3 linked regions of the Homo sapiens genome follow. The protein of the gene in region 2 purifies or fractionates together with the protein of the main gene of each other region. This does not show direct contact. Each region holds a gene or a part of one and is shown on either strand. Other genes may lie near its edges.

Region 1 (2,666 bases), on a different chromosome or scaffold from region 2:
ACTGGAGCCCAGGAAGAGAGGGAGGACAGATTCCTTAAGGAAAGACTGTGCTCTGGGAGGGGGCAGGTAGCGTCATTTTGGGGTGTAAAGGCATGGAATGCTGATTTGTAGGCAAAGTTGTTTAAGGAGGTCCTGTCACATTCAGTGGCATCCGTTATGATAAAGCCAATAGGCTTTTACACTCATCTGTCCATTTCTGTCAAGACCCTATGGCTGAGGTCAAAACAATGTTCTGGGAGAACCAGTTACCTCTAACCTTCCAATTCAGACACTGCCAGCTTAACTATGTAGAAACTGGCACACAGACCCTGTTAAGTGCTGCAACAATGACAGCGTTTCTATGAATTTGTTGGTACATGTGGGACTTTAGCTCATCTGAGGAGTCGAACAGCAGCTGTGAAAGTCTTCTACTCACTCCCTGTCGAGGCTGGCCTGGTTTGCTACACAAACACGGTGGCCCTAGGACCATGGGGCTATTCCTGCAGACGCCCTCGGGAACCAGCTGCTCTGAACGTGGTGGGGGTGTTGGAGCAGCAGTTTCTCAAAAGTCCACACACAGTTAAAGCTCTGAAAACAGCACGACGCACAGAAATGATTTCAGATGCTTTTCAGTAGCCACTTTCATGCCAACTCTTTATTTCCATAATAGAAAATCTTTTATTTCCACCTTTAGTGTTCCCTGCTAGAATAGATGACCACAAAACCCAGGCCAGAAACGTTCTGGTCTGCCGTGAACAGTCCAGGAGGCACTTGTTCTGCTGCTGTGGAAGTCGCCCTGACTCGGGGAGGAAGGGACACGCAGGTGGTATCAGTCTTGCTCAAGTAAACAGGCTGTTTTCCAAACATTGTGACTTGGCTACTGAGTGGGGATACCTGGTTTCATTGGCAATCTTCCAGTATCTCTCTCGCAAAAGGAACGCTGCACTTTTTGGTTGTCTCTGCCGAGTGAAGATCCCCTTTTTATTCCCCAGCACTCTCGTCGGTGCTACAAAAAAAAAAAAAAGACACAAAGCGATTCAGATGTCTTCTGATGGGTCAAGTTAGAACCAGTCTGGAGCTAAGGTAGGCACTAAATAGAAATGTCTTTTTTTTTCTTTTTTCTCCCTGTTGCCCAGGCTGGAATGCGGTGACACAATCATAGCTCACTGCAGCCTCAACCTCCTGGGCTCAGGCAATCCTCCTGCCTCAGCCTCTCCAGCACCACCATGCCCGGTAATCTTTTATTTTTATTTTTTAGTAAAGACAAGGTCTCATTATGTTGTCCAGGCTGGTCTCAAACTACTGGGCTCAAGCAATCTGCCCTCCTTAGCCTCCCTAAAGTGCTGGGATTATAAGCACAAGCCACCATGCTCAGCCAAATGTCCTCTTACAGTTTCAGGATGCTTGCTCTGAAGTGACAATTTATGGGTTGAAATATTTAAATACCACTGCTCTGCCCAAACACCCAGGTTCCCTGGTGTGTTAATTTCTAGTTTTCTAGTCTGTTAGGGGAAAAAAACCCAAAACAGTGGCCAGGTGTGGTGGCCAACGCCTGTAATCCCAGTGCTTTGGGAGGCTGAGGCAGGTGGATCACCTGAGGTCAGGAGTTCAAGATCAGCCTGGCCAACATGAGGAAACCCGCCTCTATTAAAAATACAAAAACTGGCTGGGCACATTGGCTCATGCCTGTAATCCCAGCACTCTGGGAGGACAAAGCAGGCGGATCACAAGGTCAGGAGATTAAGACCAGCCTGGACAATATGGTGAAACCTCATCTCTACTAAAAATACAAAAATTATACAGGCATGGTGGTGGGTGCCTGTGGTCCCAGCTACTCAGGAGGCTGGGGCAGGAGAATCGCTTGAACCCAGGACGCAGAGGTTGCAGTGAGCTGAGATTGTGCCACTGCACTCCAGCCTGGGCGACAGAGTGAGACTCCATCTCCAAAAAAAAAAAAAGCACTAAAAGTTTATCTTTTATTTGCAAACTAAGGTTTACATGCTGGGTACCCAGCTGTCTGGTAACTGGGTAGGCAGAGGGCTAGGGGTATCTGGGACAGTTACCCTTGAAAAGCCTTGGGCCTTTCTGAAGAGATAGCGCCTAGTGGGAGCCAGGGTCCTGACCAGCCACAGGTCCCTGCGTGGGACCTACTCATGGAGTTCAAAGTCCGCCGGGGCTGACGTCCAGCTTGGCAGCACCCACCACTGGTGGTCATTAGGCCTGAGCTGAGCCTGGTGGAGGAGCACAGCTGGCAACGACCTGTCAGGGCTGTGCTCTCAGGACATTCTCTGTCCCCAGTAAGACCACCACTAAATGGAAATGTTAAATGGAAAGGGGGCTTTCCCCACCAAAAGGTTCAAGACTGTTTCTTCCATAAGTGAACACAGGCATCGCCAAGTACTTCATCAAATGCAGCCCTTACGACACCAACAAGGAGGTGGCATTATCCCCACTGGACAGGCTTATGAAAAGCTTAGGTGACTTGCCCAACGTGATGCAGCTCATTTCTTTTTTCTTTTTAAGACCGAGTTTCAGCTGGCCATGGTGGCTCATGCCTGTAATCCCAGCACTTTGGGAGGCCCAGATGTGCGGATCACCTGAGGTCGGTAGTTCAAGCCCAGCCTGACCAACATGGAGAAACCCCGTCTCTACTAAAAATACAAAATTAGCCGGGTGTGGTGGCGCAT
Region 2 (4,321 bases):
TACTACTAGGTGTTTACCCATGAGAAATGAGAACACATGTCCCTACAGAGACTTGTACACAAATGTTCACGGCAGCTTTGTTCACAATAACCAAAGAAAGAAAGAAAGAAACTAGAAGAAAGAAACTAAAATAATCCATGTATCCATTAACAGAATATACAAACAAACTGTGGAGTAAGACATACTCCGGAACATAAGTCAGCAATAAAAAAAGACCAAATCATGGATACGACATGGATGAATCTCAAAAATATGGTGAGCTTTACACAATATTGCAGAATTCCATTTACATGAAGTTCAAGAACAAGCCAAACTCACCTATGATGAGATACAGGGCAGTGGTTGCCACTGAGAGGGTGAGGGCAGAGAATGACTGAGAATGAGGATGAAGGCACCTGCTGGGGTGACAGTAATATTCTCTGTCTTGATAAGGACTAGGGTTACACAGGTGCATGCATCTGTCAAAACATTATGCAAATGGTACTTTCCATCTTTGCACATTTCACTATATGTATATAAATTTTATCTTAAGGAAACCATAAGCACATATTGAAGTCAAAATAATAAAATGTGTACTAAAATGTTTAGGAATGACCTGTACCAACATCTGTAATTTACTTTAAAGTGCATAAAACCATCAGCTGGACTTATGGATGGACACAGGGATGGCTGGATGGTTGGGGGAGGTGTGTAGTTAAGCAAAGATGGCAAAATGTGAATTAGACTCTAGGTGTGTATATTTAGGGGGTCACTGTTCTTGCAACTTTTCTATATCTTAAAAAATGGGATGGGGATAGAGTCACAGTGTCCTCTCCTTAGTCCACCAAGTTAGAAATTTGGCAAAGCACCATGCCCCACCAAGCCATGGGACCACATAGTTTCAATTCTGCTGAAAAGAGAAGACTGGAAGAACATAAGTAGCTTTACAGGAACTCACATCACTCATGCCAAAGATTTTCTGCTTGTTTCCCTACAGACAAAGCAATTATTTGAATGTAAGCCAAAAATTCCTGCTCAAGAGGGAGAAAAAGAACTCACTGACTTGTATTCCCAATTTATTATCTTTCAATTCCTGTACCAAATCTACTAGCTAACTGCACAACACTCCACTTCCATTTGCCCCATGTCCATACAGCCAAAAAGCAAACAAAGAAAAACCAACCCAGTGACTTGATATACAAATGCAGCCAGAGGATGACGTGCCAGCTCTGGGGCTTTGAATCACTCAGGCGGGCCAGAAACCCCACTGAAGGCAAAAGAGGATGCAGAGCTCAGTCTGAGGTTAGAGTGATTTCACTGAGGTTAGCACACACGCACCAAAGAGTCCCAAACAGCTTGCTTCGTAACCCCTCTCTGGGGTTTGGTGACATCTGGGGTCACTTGAACTTCGTTGGGATTCAGCTGTTCAGAGATACAAATTAGGAATCCCGGCAGCAGAGAGGCCCTACCCACAGGCCCAGAGGTCGCTCACATTACACCCGGCTTCCTTCCTGGCAAGGCCTTAACTTATCCTGAGATGACACACGATGGCAGGGGTTGGAAGATGCCTAGTCTAGTTGAGCGCCCAGCTCCTGAAACAGCTGTACCGACTACAAGGGTTCCAGCACATGAGTTGCTGGAAACTGGGGTGACCACTGACAGAGATTGAGCCAGACTTTTTTTTTAAAAAAGTACTTCTTGTTTGTTTGTTTTAAGCCCCCGAAGAAACTCACTGACACCACCCAGCGTCCCTAGGGATCACCCATAACCACACAGGGCAGCTGAGGGCAAGCACAGAGTCACAGACAGACAGCAGGGAGCGTGCCTGGTTCTACAACCTTGGCCTCCACGCGGTTCTTGCTGCCAAAGGCAGCGACACCGGAGGTGAAGGGCACCAGCCCTGGCCTAGGACTGGGGTGCGCGTGCCTGACAACGGGGCTTCCCGAAATACACAACCACCTCCTCCTCGCCCAGACCCATATCCATCCTGGCGTCCCTTGAGTCTAGAGAAGTGGGTTAAGACAAGGGAAGAAAATCCCTTACAGAAGAGGAGATCCCCGTTTTCAGTGCTGGGGACTCTCGGCACCCGCGTCCCTGTGCTTCTGGTGGTTCCGGCGCTTCCTCGGAGCGCGCGGCATGTCTGCTCCTACACGTCCAGCACCTCTGTCCCCAGAGCAAACCCACCTCCCAGGGCACACGCAGAGGGGCAGTCAGGCACCGCCTCCACCCTGCCCCACCCAGGCCGCGCGCACCCCGGAAACCTGGACTCCGCGACCAGCTCCCTCCTGTTCTTTTCCGAGGACCCCAGCGGCAGTGTGTCCTGGACCCACCTGTAGCCTCCAAGCTCCCCCACCTCTGCGTCCTTCCTAGGCGCTTCTGAGCCTGCAGAGCCTACGACCCCCAACAGGCTGCTCCGAAGTGCCTCTCCCTACATCGCTCCAGGAATGACTCCCCTACACCCGTTCCCCGCAAAAAAAAGTTGGCCCAAGATCCAGGCGTCCCAAGGATCAGCCCAGGTCCCCATCCGACGCGGGCCAGGGGGTGCTGCTCTGGCAGCTCCGGAGCCCCGGCAAAGAGCAACCTGCAGGGAGGCGCCACGCGCGGTTCCCACTACCCGCCAGAGACCCGGTCCATGGGGCCAAACGGAGGGGCCTGTGCCGGTCGACACCCCAAGCCCTGTCGCGCCCCCCCCGCCGCCTACCGTATGGGACCGGCGGAGGAGAAGGCGCGGTCGCGGGCTCCCTGAGGCAGCGTGTTCCGTCCCGGGAGGAAAGTTTGTGCCATACAGAGGAGGCGGCGCGGGGAGGACTTGGGCGCCGGTGGGTGGAGGCGTGGGCGGTGGCGCCGCGTGGTCGTGTGTCTGTCCCTCCGGCGATCGGTGCGTCTGTCCCTCGCCGGAGCCCGCGGCCGCCGCGCTCTCGCTCGCTGCGCCCAGCGCCCGGCGCGCTCCGGCTCCAGCCCCGACGCGCCCCCGCCGCCGCCGCCGCGCGTCCGCCGGCTACACTTCCTCTTCCTCTGAACTCATGTGCAAAATATGCTACGCTGCATCTTCAGGGAAAGCCTCGCGGCCCCTGACAGCAGCCGCTGGAGCGGTGGGCCCGCCCAGCTCTCCCCGCGCCCCCTCGGAGTTCCGCCCGGTCACCTCCACGCGGCCGAGCTGCAAGCGACCCTGGCAGCCTCAGAACCCAGGGGTCAGGGGCTCATCGATCCTCCCTCCCAGCCCCTCCTAATCAAGGTTGTGTGCTGTCAGGAAGAGCGCCTGGGAGACAAGGATCCTTCAAGATTTGAGCCAGGATGCTGAAAGGGCGACTGCCATCAAGGTGCTGATGGCTGGGGGTGGGGTTGGGGCCGACTTGAGAGAGGACCATTTCTCGACCCCATTCCACAGGTGGGAGCATCCCTAAACATCTCAGGTGCTGCTGAAATTCTCTCTTGCGAGTTAGTGCTTCAGGGAAGGGTAATGCCACTGTCTCCGTTGCCATCCCTTGGTCTACCTACTTAAGATGTCCAGAGGTTTGAGAAGATCTGGAGAATCACCTTGCGTGGCAACTTGAGGCACCCAGGGAGAAAATTATATAAAGAGTGAAGCACTAGTAAACCAGGCTGCATTAGTAAAGTGAAGATGTGAGGCAAGGAGCCATTAGAAAATATTTTCTTCGTAAAACTAAACCAAGCAGAATTACAGTGTAGGGGTTAAGAGGGGGAACTTTAAAGTCAAATAATCAGGGTTGGATTCCTGGCTTTAGTACTTACTGGCTGTGTGACTTTGGGTAAGTGACTTAACTGCTCTGCGCCTATTTGTCACATGGCACTTCTTCGTGGGTTATTATATGTAAAGTGTTTAGCAACCACTCTATAACTTAGCTATTATCATTATTTTAAGGGGGCTAGAACAAGAAGGGTGAGATAATTTAATTAATTATCTCCATTTTCTAATTGGGCAAAGAAGACCCTGTGTGGGCAAAGTTAAGCACTGGAGCACACAGGGTGGAGGGCTGGTTTAGGGGCCCAGCAGTGTTTCGATGAGGTCCTTCTGGCACTAATAACACTCCTCCAGCAAGTAAGGAAGCACTATTTTGTTTTCAGGGACTCTTCCTGTTACCACAGCTTCTCAGAGATTTTCTTCCTTATTTTCTCTTTCCATAGCCTTTCTAGTTCTGTTTTGCTCCCCCTCCCTCACCACTGTTTTGTTTTTATTTGTTTTTCTCCTTTCCCTTTCCACCCCACCTTTTCCTGGTGTCACACTCACCACCACTATCCCCAGTGTCCCCCATTTCCCCCCTACACTTGAGCTTGCCACATGAAAGAAAATAAGACCAGGTGACCACGTAAGTCCAGGTTC
Region 3 (3,552 bases), on a different chromosome or scaffold from region 2:
ATCACTGCACTCCAGCTTGGGTGACAAGAGCAAAACTCCATCTCAAAAAAAAAAAAGCTACAGAATATGAATATATTTCTATCTCTTCTATAGCATCTCTTCTAAGGACAATTATTTGTTTGAATTTATGCTGAGTCCTGAGGAAGCTGTCACAACTACACCAAAGTGTACTTCCAAATTGGATAGAAATTATTTGTGATTTCATATGAGTAAAGGAAGGCTCTCTTTTTCTCTCAGTTCTAGGAAGAGTTCATATCATCACCTAAGTAACCCTAATCTGATCACTTCTTTCTACCTTTCTGGTGTTTGATATCTTTATCCCAAATCTCTAAAGCCCCAACCTTCTTGCCCATTAGCCACAACTCTCAGAAATGGACCTCATAGGGCAGGGGACACAGCCTCTTTGTTCTGATGATAAAAGCAGGTGTTTACCCAGCACTGGTTGGTGCTGTTGGCATAGACTCTGAAAGCTCTCAAGCTGTCTGGGCTCACGTCCCAGGTCTCTCCCCAGCCCCCCACCCCCACCTGGTGTGTTGCCTGAACTGGAGCCACTCAACTCCCTGTGCCTCTATTTCCTCACCTCTGAAATGGCAATGCCAAGAGCACTGTTTTAGGGGGCTATTCTGAGCATTATATATGCTCATAGATGGGCCTGGCACAAAGTAAGTGCTCAGTAAATGTCAGCTACTATTATTTCCTTTTTTTGTTTTTTGTTTTTTGTTTTTAGACAACGTTTCACTCTTGTCACCCAGGCTGTAGTGCAATGGTAGGATTTTGGCTCACTGTAACCTCTGCCTCCTGGGTTCAAGCAATTCTCCTGCCTCAGCCTCCTGAGTAGCTGGGACCACAGACGTGTGCCACCATGCCAGGCTATTTTTGTATTATTAGTAGAGACAGGGTTTCACCATGTTGGCCGGGCTGGTCTCGAACTCCTGACCTTAGGTGATCTGCCTGCCTCAGCCTCCCAAAGTGCTGGGATTACAAGAGTGAGCCACCAAGCCCTGCCTTCTATTATTTTCTAATACCCTGTGTTCATCTCCTCATCCTCCTTCCTCTTAATTATCCACTTTGCCATTTCTATTCCTGTCCATCAATGCTTCCCCCAGTGTCTTTTCTGATCACCTGTGCCCCCTCCTCTCCTATTGCTGACACACAGCCTGGGCCATTTTCCTTACCAAGACCTCCCCCACCCCACATCCTTGAAACATCTGCCTATCTCTTTCTTGCCTCCTTTTGAAAATCTTCAGATCCCATGTAGCACCTTGGGCATTTTTGTACTTAGTAGCCCATCTTTTGACACCCACTCTATGATAATTTAACACCAGCAGTTCACCAGACCTGAGGTTGGCTGCCTTGGGGCTGGCAGTGTGGTTTAGGAGAAAGAGCACTGGGCCGGGGGCACAGGGACCATCTCTGCACGGGCTCTGCCACCAGCTCCTCTGACCATAGCGCAGGTGGCCCTTCCTGGGTCTGCATCGTATGGTAAGGAGGAACTTTAGGGCTCCAAGGAACTCTAACAGCCCACAGTTTTGAATCCAGCACTTCCTGAGCCCCCAGCATGGGCTACGGTGTGTGCTGGGTGCTTTTCTCTGTTGATTCCACAAATTTCAATTGAGCCAATATTGGCTGTACCCTGTGCTAGGTGATGGAGCTGCAAGGGAGATCAGGACAGACTGTGACATCCTTCATAGAACAGACATAGTTAAATATTACAGACTTGTTTGGAGGTAGGTCTCAGTGCTCCAATGTTTGCAGATTTCAACCAGATATTTTGGGAACGTTTCACTGTCAACAGCTAGGACTGGCAGAACCACCAGGTGAGCCCAGGTCTGAGTGACTTTGAGAGTGGCTCACTCTCCAGGCAACCTCCCTGGACAGGGGTGAGTCTGATGCCTTCTCACGGGGGTATCAGCCTCCGATGGGTGGGGTGTGGAGGTGAGAGGTCATAGGTGCCTGGATAGGAAGTGACTCTGCCATCACTTCCTGTGTGACCTGAGGCCTGGGATGAGGATGGGGCAATTGATGGGGAAGCGGGGAGCACCTGTGCTGTGGGGTGGGTGGGATGTGGACATGTCTGTGTTTCTGCTGTGTCTCCTGTTCTTCCCCTGGGATTGGGACTATTTCCATCCTGCTGATCCCTTGCCACTCACACTGGGGGGGCTGCCTCTTGGGTTAGACCTTCCACCCCTGTGGTCTGTTATTCACTGACCGTTACTGTCGTTGTAATACTCCACGATGTCTTTCAGGGTCTCCATAAAGATGTCCTCCCTGGCCTTCTGAAGTTGGCTGTCCTGCTTCCAATCCTCCATTCCTTCCACCTGTCTCCAGAGTCCCATGGGCTGAGACTTCCTGTCTTTACTGTTGTATCTAAAGAACTGGAGGTCATTGAGTGAGCCAAGGGCCTGAAACGCGGGGACGTCTTCAACATGCTTGGACAGCCCAGTGTAGATATAGGTCAGAGAGTAACGACCTGCAAAAGAAAAGATTCTGATGGTTGAGGTCCATGCAAGGGTCCCACTGTGGGGCTGCATAGGGCTAGGAGGGGAGACCTGCCACTGGCCTTTTCTTCCCCAGCTCTTTCTCCTGCCATCAACTTCACACCACTGGAGGCTCACTCAAGTGAATATGCTCTACTTTCATGCCTGAGATGATATTTCAGAGACCATCCTGTGTCTTCACTACATTATTTCCTCTGCTTGACACATAGGAAGATAACATTACTCAGCCACCTCGAAGATATATTGGGACCATGTGACTGAGTTTTGTCAAAAGAGAATGTGAGCAGAAGTGATGTCTTTCTTCTTGTCCAAGACCCTACCAGCTGGCTTGTCCCTTTTGTTTCTCATCCCTAGAGGTGACGACTTTGAAGGCCACAGGATAATATGAAAGAGTCTCAATATGCAATTGGCCTGGATCCCTGAGTCACCCCATGGAGGAATGGAACCTTGCCCAGTGTGCATGGAATCTGACATGCGTTAGAAATTAACATTTCTAGGCTGGGCTCCGTGGCTCATGCCTGTAATCCCAGGACTTTGGGAGGCCAAGGCAGGCAGATTACTTGAGATCAGGAGTTGAAGACCAGCCTGGCCAACATGGTGAAACCCCATCTCTATTAAAAAATACAAAAATTAGCTGGGCATGGTGGTGCGGGCCTGTAATCCCAGTCATGCTGGAGGCTGAGGCAGGAAAATCACTTGAACCAGAGAGGCAGAGGTTGCAACAAGCCAAGATCATGCCACTGCACTCCAGCTTGGATGACAGAGTGAGACTCCGTCTCAAAAAAAACAAATTAACATTTCGTCCGGGCTCAGTGGCTCACGCCTGTAATCCCAGCACTTTAGGGGGCCGAGGCGGGTGGATCACGAGGTCAGGAGATCGAGACCATCCTGGCTAACATGGTGAAACCCCGTCTCTACTAAGAATTCAAAAAATTAGCCAAGCATGGTGGCGGGTGCCTGTAGTCCCAGCTACTCAGGAGGCTGAGGCAGGAGAATGGCATGAACCCGGGAGGCGGAGCTTGCAGTGAGCTGAGATCATGCCACTGCACTTCAG

Evidence for each region.
Region 1: the proteins of RFTN1 (region 2) and GUSB purify together in Homo sapiens (co-immunoprecipitation; one large-scale study listed by IntAct). This does not show direct contact.
Region 3: the proteins of RFTN1 (region 2) and AZGP1 purify together in Homo sapiens (co-immunoprecipitation; one large-scale study listed by IntAct). This does not show direct contact.

What each region holds. Positions count from the first base shown.
Region 1 is NC_000007.14:65,960,079-65,962,744, forward strand, and holds the end of GUSB (beta-glucuronidase isoform 1 precursor), read right to left. Parts: intron 986-2,666; coding exon 819-985; 3' UTR 606-818; downstream 1-605. UniProt on the Homo sapiens protein: Plays an important role in the degradation of dermatan and keratan sulfates.
Region 2 is NC_000003.12:16,510,762-16,515,082, forward strand, and holds the start of RFTN1 (raftlin), read right to left. Parts: upstream 2,939-4,321; 5' UTR 2,681-2,938; exon of another isoform or gene 2,310-2,680; intron 2,156-2,309; exon of another isoform or gene 2,023-2,155; intron 1-2,022. UniProt on the Homo sapiens protein: Involved in protein trafficking via association with clathrin and AP2 complex.
Region 3 is NC_000007.14:99,969,537-99,973,088, forward strand, and holds part of AZGP1 (zinc-alpha-2-glycoprotein precursor), read right to left. Parts: intron 2,471-3,552; coding exon 2,210-2,470; intron 1-2,209. UniProt on the Homo sapiens protein: Stimulates lipid degradation in adipocytes and causes the extensive fat losses associated with some advanced cancers. May bind polyunsaturated fatty acids.